Linked DNA regions of Homo sapiens. The protein of the gene in region 2 interacts with the protein of the main gene of each other region in a pairwise test. Each region holds a gene or a part of one and is shown on either strand. Other genes may lie near its edges.

What was found.
Region 1: the proteins of EFHC2 (region 2) and JAKMIP2 interact in binary tests that used the Homo sapiens proteins (3 or more experiments, as listed by UniProt).

Annotation. Positions count from the first base shown.
Region 1 is NC_000005.10:147,587,834-147,590,728, forward strand, and holds part of JAKMIP2 (janus kinase and microtubule-interacting protein 2), read right to left. Parts: 3' UTR 1-2,895.
Region 2 is NC_000023.11:44,176,173-44,179,672, reverse strand, and holds part of EFHC2 (EF-hand domain-containing family member C2), read left to right. Parts: intron 1-1,108; coding exon 1,109-1,306; intron 1,307-1,464; coding exon of another isoform or gene 1,465-1,466; intron 1,467-3,288; coding exon 3,289-3,381; intron 3,382-3,500. UniProt on the Homo sapiens protein: Microtubule inner protein (MIP) part of the dynein-decorated doublet microtubules (DMTs) in cilia axoneme, which is required for motile cilia beating.

The DNA of each region.
Region 1 (2,895 bases), on a different chromosome or scaffold from region 2:
GTGGAGAACACATTTGCTCTCTACCTAAGTGATAACCCAGGCCTTCTATATCAGCTCTACCTTATGGACTTGGGAAGACACATACAACCTGTATGAGCAGTTATTTGTGGGCCAAAAAAAAAAAAAAAAATTAAATCAAGATCTATTCTTCCACCCCTAAAACCTAACTGTTGGTAATAATTTAATTTATATAGCATAAGTCAGAAGGGTTGTAATTTTTTTCAGCAAATTCTATTTCCTAAAAGTAGGGTGGCATTAAAGAAAAGTTTGACATTCAATTTAGTAATAGATGCTTTTTAAGTATGATAGTCAAAGATAGTCTCTCTATGTTTTTCCCCTCTTTCATGAAATTTTTCTATCCTGAATAACTATTTAAATTGGGTCTTTTATTTATCTCAAATTATCTTTAGTAGTCAGTTATGTTTATTTTCCAGGGTATGAATATTTTATTGAGAAAAATTAAGTTAATGAACCCGGAAGAATGCTGTTCTGACTGCTACAAACTCAGTAGCCAAATGCATCTCGGTAGTACAGATGCAGAAGTGGGGCCACAGGAAATCTCAGTTATTGATAACTTTTTTTTTTTTTTTTTTGCTATTGCTGAACATCCCATCCAAGGGAAGCATTCATTTAAACACGGTCCATTTCCATGGATCCATGAGTGACTGGAACACATATCCACAATTTTGCTGATGCTTTTATAATTGTGAAAATGGATAATAGAGAGATGTATCTATTGAAATATTTATACTTTATTCAAGGATATATTCATTTTGAGGCTCATGAGCAAGAGTTGGTAAAAATTACAGTTCAGTCTATAGTCTTGAGAAATTTGCTAATCTCCCAGATCTTAAGCAAAAAGAAAAAACAAGCAAACCTTTTGCCTGGCCCTAAACACATCTAAAGCTGCTTGGACAATCATCCTAGCTGTTGTTCTCATATGACTTATAGCAGATAAGCAGATTAGGTATATAAACCATACCACTTTTTCAAAAATTTTCAATCATTTAGAAATAGTTACTCATGGAAATAAATTTTGACTTACAAATTTCTTGGTGGGTGGGAAAGCAAAATTAAGAGAAGGAAGGTGTGTGTTGGAGCAGACGGAATATAGATTTACTCATATGGGCCCTGCAACAGAAAGTGAAGAAAAATGGAAAAGTCTTAGATATGTGAGAGTAATTTATCCTCTTCCATATTTTCTGACTCAAGTTGGCTAGTGTTGGGTCACCAACACTGTAGAGGCACCCTCTTTCACATTTCTTGCCTAATGAGCATATGGCTCATATTTAATCTGGAACCTACCTAGTTGAATAAAGAATCCAGCAGGAGGCCGGGCACAGTGGCTTACACCTGTAATCCTAGCACTTTGGGAGGCTGAGGCAGGCAGATCACTTGAGGTCAGGAGTTCGAGACCAGCCTGACCAGCATAGTGAAACCCTGTCTCTACTAAAAATACAAAAATTAGCCAGGTGTGGTGGTGTGCACCTGTAATCCCAGCTACTAGGGAGGTTGAGGCAGGAGAATCACTTGAATCCAGGAGGTGGAGCTTGCCATGAGCCGAGATTGTGCCAATGCACTCCAGCATGGGCAACAGAGCAAGACTCCATCTCAAAAAAAAAAAAAAAAAAGAATACAGCAGGATAGTCTGTTTTGTATCTTCCCAGTAGGGCATACCACCTGGCTTTCCTCCAGAATAAAAGATAATCAAGCTAATTATGTGATACTGTCAGTTTGCTCCAAGCCTTTGTTTAATGACTGGCTCTCCTGTGGTAAAAGTGGGGTTCTGTATGATGGCATGCATATGCAATCAAGAGAGCTGGGAGATGCTTATCATAGAAATGACACACTCTTCTATCTTGTTCAATAGCATGAGATGATCTATTTCCTATAGATTATTAAAGATCCTGGTTTTGAATCTCTCAATTTTTATTGCTAATAATGTCCCAAGTAGCTTGATAAGCAAGCTTCAGTGCTATAGTGCTTAAATTTAACCAAACTGAAGCACTATTTTATTACATGAGGGAATCTTTTTGTCAACAACACAAGAAAGTCAAATAATACAGCACTTGTAATAATTACAAAGCACATTGTGCTACTTTAAGCACCTCTTGTTCTAAAATTGCAAATAAAACTTTATGAAAAAGCATTTTAACCCCATTTTGCAGATGAGGAAACTGAGGCACAGAGAGGTTAAGTGACTGGGCCAAAGATACCTGGGTCAGCAGTAAATGTAAGAACAAAAAGTGGGACCCCAGCATTCTAGTTTTTATTGTACATTCTTCAGTTATTGTTCTGGCTTTGCAAATGCCAGTGCTAAAACTGAAGGATGATAGTGAACCCACATATGGAAAGATTTGTATAGCATTTCATAGAAAGAGTTTCTGGCTCCCTACACATATTCTCTATGCATGGGAATTCTAGCCCCATAAATAAAACTTCAAAAATTTGAAAAATTGAGGTTGTTCTGTTATCTACAGTAAATGAGGTGTAAAATTAGCTTTTCAGGAACATACATTTGCTCTCAGAGATGACTCCAAGACTCAGTAATACACAACTTAGGAAAAGTACCAGTCCTCTAATTGTCTCTGGTAGAAAATGACCTTGTCAGTAACATAATGTTATTTCCATATAAAAAAGTAGAGCTATCTTGTTGCTGTCATCTGTCTGGGAAAAAATGTTATCACTCTAAACAAGAAGAGGTCAGAATGCTCTAGGCATGTGAGGATTCTTTAAAAAATAATAGTTTAGTTTAATATTCACATCTCTGTGGCAAACCCGACTCTTGGTAGAAATTTACTCATTGATTCTGCTGTGTTTTTGCCCAAATCATATAGCATATTCATTTGCAGGCAATTTTAAGCAGCCATTTGAAAAACAGTATTTTGGAAATGA
Region 2 (3,500 bases):
CATTAAAAATACAAAAGCAAAACCAAATTTAAACAAAACAAAACAACCCAGGAAACTTGAGAAGTAGATGTAGATTAAATGAATTTCCTTTAGATAGGTCAACATCAATGCTGTGGGCTTTCCTAGACTCTATGGAAATTCTTGACTAGGAGAATCTAGAATTATTAGATGATAATGTCCAGAAATACCTAAAAGAACTGAAAGCATTTATTCTGAAAGACCTCTTTCTAGCAGAAGGCCAAATAAAATTTTCTATTCCCTTGTTTATTCAGGATTCTTGGGAACTGAATTATTTCCAGTAAATAAATTTTCTAGACAGTGGAAGCTTATTCCTGTAACCACCATAACATTTTGCATTTTAATCATTTTGATATAATTCTGTCTGGTGTATGCTGCTTAGTTTATGGCTTTCATACAGAGTTACATTGAAAACAATTCAGCCAATTTGCTAGGCCTTGAGTCGTCTTCATTGATATGTTGTTGTTTAGTTTTTTTTTTTTAGCTCTGCCTAATAATCTCAGTACCATTTGCCTTCTAAAGATGCAGACAGCTGTACGCTTACATAGGTCTTTTAACTTTTCATTTTTTTTTCTCTTGTTTTTTTTTCTCACTGCCAGGGTGTGTCCAGTTTTACTTTTTATTACAGAAATGTGCATGATTGCTTTCCCCATCCCAAAACACCTTTCTAATTTATTAACTTACAAATTTTATGTCCCAGGAAACCAGAAACCCAAGCCTGTTACTATTTTGTGTAAGGAAGATTAATAGGCATTGAATAAAGTCATGTACTTAGTAATAGGTTTTTTGACCATTCAAAGCCTTTAAAAATTTACTTCCTGGTTGCAGGCTGTTATTTGGTAGGTGTTTAACTCTGGGCAAAATGCCATTTTATTTATAAGCTACAGTGCCTATGATTTTCCATTCTGGCATTGGTGCCTTCCTGCTGCTCCCAAATTAAGAAGAGAAATTAAGTTAAAAAAATCACATGACCTCTGTACAGTTGGTAAAAGTTTTGTAAAATGGAATTTGGATCTTTTAAATAGAAGGAGATGTAAAATACTGTATTCTTAGATATCAGTTTATAAATGTTTTTCCATTTTTATTACAGAGACATATTGATGTCTTTGACTGTTGGAAACCTTGCAGAGCAAGAATTTGTAACCATTGCACGTCACTACCGTGTGCCTGAGGGCACATGTTCAGATATGGATTTCTTAATCGCACTGGCCCACGAAAAGTTCAAGAAAAATATGTTTGAGAATTTCGACACTTTCATTTATTCCTGTGTGTATGAAGATCGAGAAAAGTAAGCTTTTGTTTTATTGATTCTAATCATTTACATTTCTGTGAACCTGAGTAATGAAGGAATTTCTATTTTATCAAAAAGTGCAAAAAGAAAATAGACATGTGTCATCATACTCATACTCTACTATTTAGCACAAACACCTTAAATCATTTTCGGAGAAGTATTTAGGTACAGATATTTCCCAGTGATGGAGAGCTTGTGTGTGTGTGTGTGTGTGTGTGTGTGTGTGTGTGTGTGATATGGCATCTGGCCCTGTCGCCCAGGCTAGAGTGCAGTGGCGCAACCTCGGCTCACTGCAACCTCCACCTCCCAGGTTCAAGAGAGTCTCCTGCCTCAGCCTCCTGAGTAGTTGGGACTACAGGCTCGCACCACCGCACCCAGCTAATTTTTTTTTTTTTTGTATTTTTAGTAGAGACAGGGTTTCACCATGTTGGCCAGGCTAGTCTTGTTGACGGAATAGGGGAGGCCCTGTATCTTTGAAAGAATAGGCTTCTCCCTTGCATGTTCTTTTCATTTGTTTCTAGAAGCTTTCAACTGAAGCATAGTAAATCAAAATGTTAGGAGGGTTAATTCTGAGATGTCGTCTTTTTACATTATTTTAGTACTGATGGGGATTTATAAATGTAACTTTTATAATAAATAGAAAATGGAATTTTCAAGCAAACATTCTGTAGAATTTCTTTGAAATTATTTCTTCTTGAAAATAATGAAGTTCAGTATAAGCTATTTCTTATACATTGATTGTGTGCGTGTTGAGCTTCATTAAGTCATTGTTACATACAACTGGATGCAAACAACTTAATGTGTTTTTTTTGCATTCATCTTACAGACCTTATACAGTGGGGAGAAATATAAATTTACTGATTTCATCTGGAATTAGAAAAATCTTAGTTCTTGCTCTAGCTTCTAATCCGTATTGCTGCACACCACTGCCATCTCTCTTCCTTGTGACTTCTTGCCTTATCCCCAAACTTGAAGTCTGAACCCAAGTGGCCAACTGCATTCCCTGAATATCTGTGTAGGTCCCATAGTTTGTCTTAGAAATAATCATTTTTTTTATTAATCCATAATGCATCCTCTTTGAGTTTTTATAAAGATGGTATTTTTCCTTGACTCTTTAAGCTTTCCCAAGCTTCCTAGAAGATGTGTGGCCTGAGTTTTGCATGGCCCTGGCCCTGCCTTCCACCCTGGTGTTGCCCCCTTCCCCAGAGTGAGAAGTGTGGCCCTCCTTCATTCAAGGAACACTTCTTAGGAACAATGGGGCTGCTTGACCAGATAGCCTGAGGTTCTTCCAGATCCATCAAGCTTTGATTCTAGATATAAACATTCTCATTGCAAAGAAAAGAGCCAACTTTCTTTCCTGTTGGTTCTAATTTTGCCCGATGCCTGGAAAAGTGTTGGCTGAATGAGAACATTGGACAAGAATGTCTTTGCCCCCATAAGACTGGAGAAAATGACTTTTGGGCTGCTCTAGAGAAAACTGCTAGCATCTGAAAAAATTGAAGTGAATATTGAGGCCCCAGCTGGGGCTTCCAGGTGATAAGGTTTGGGTCCAAGGAAAAGAACAGAAAAACACCCTCAAGTCATATCATACTTGTGTTGGAGGCTCTAGATGCCTGTCAAATTAAGAGATGTTTTCAAATATCAGAACCATTTTTGACTAGTGGTCAAGAATGCAGATCAATTACTTAGAGCAACACTTGTGGCTGTAGCCTTAATAGGCTGTACTGTCACCAACCAAGAATCTGCATCTTGAAGGAAAAGCCTTTGTAAGGATGGAGTCTGGTGGCCTCTGAAATAGAAAAAGTTGATGAAATGAAATGTGACTGTTCTTCCTTATTGTGAATTCCAATACCAATTTTCATACTTCCATGTGTACATTCTCAGGAAACATCACAAATGTATTTTCTTTCCTATAGTATGTAATTATTACTAAAGGTATACAAGGTATATAAAAGCTCATTTACGTTGTTTTAATGCAGAAAAAATGTATTACCCACCAAAGACATTAAAAGGCTGTGCAAATCCTCCAGATTACCTTTGAGTGATGATCTTCTAGAATCCTTATTGTCAAGGTAAGTTAGAGTTCCACTCTTGATAGGGATTGTCCTGCATAGTTTTATTTGGGGGACCATTCCTGGTTTTACATCTCCCTTTAATTACCCTTGATTTACCCTTAACTGTTTTGATTATA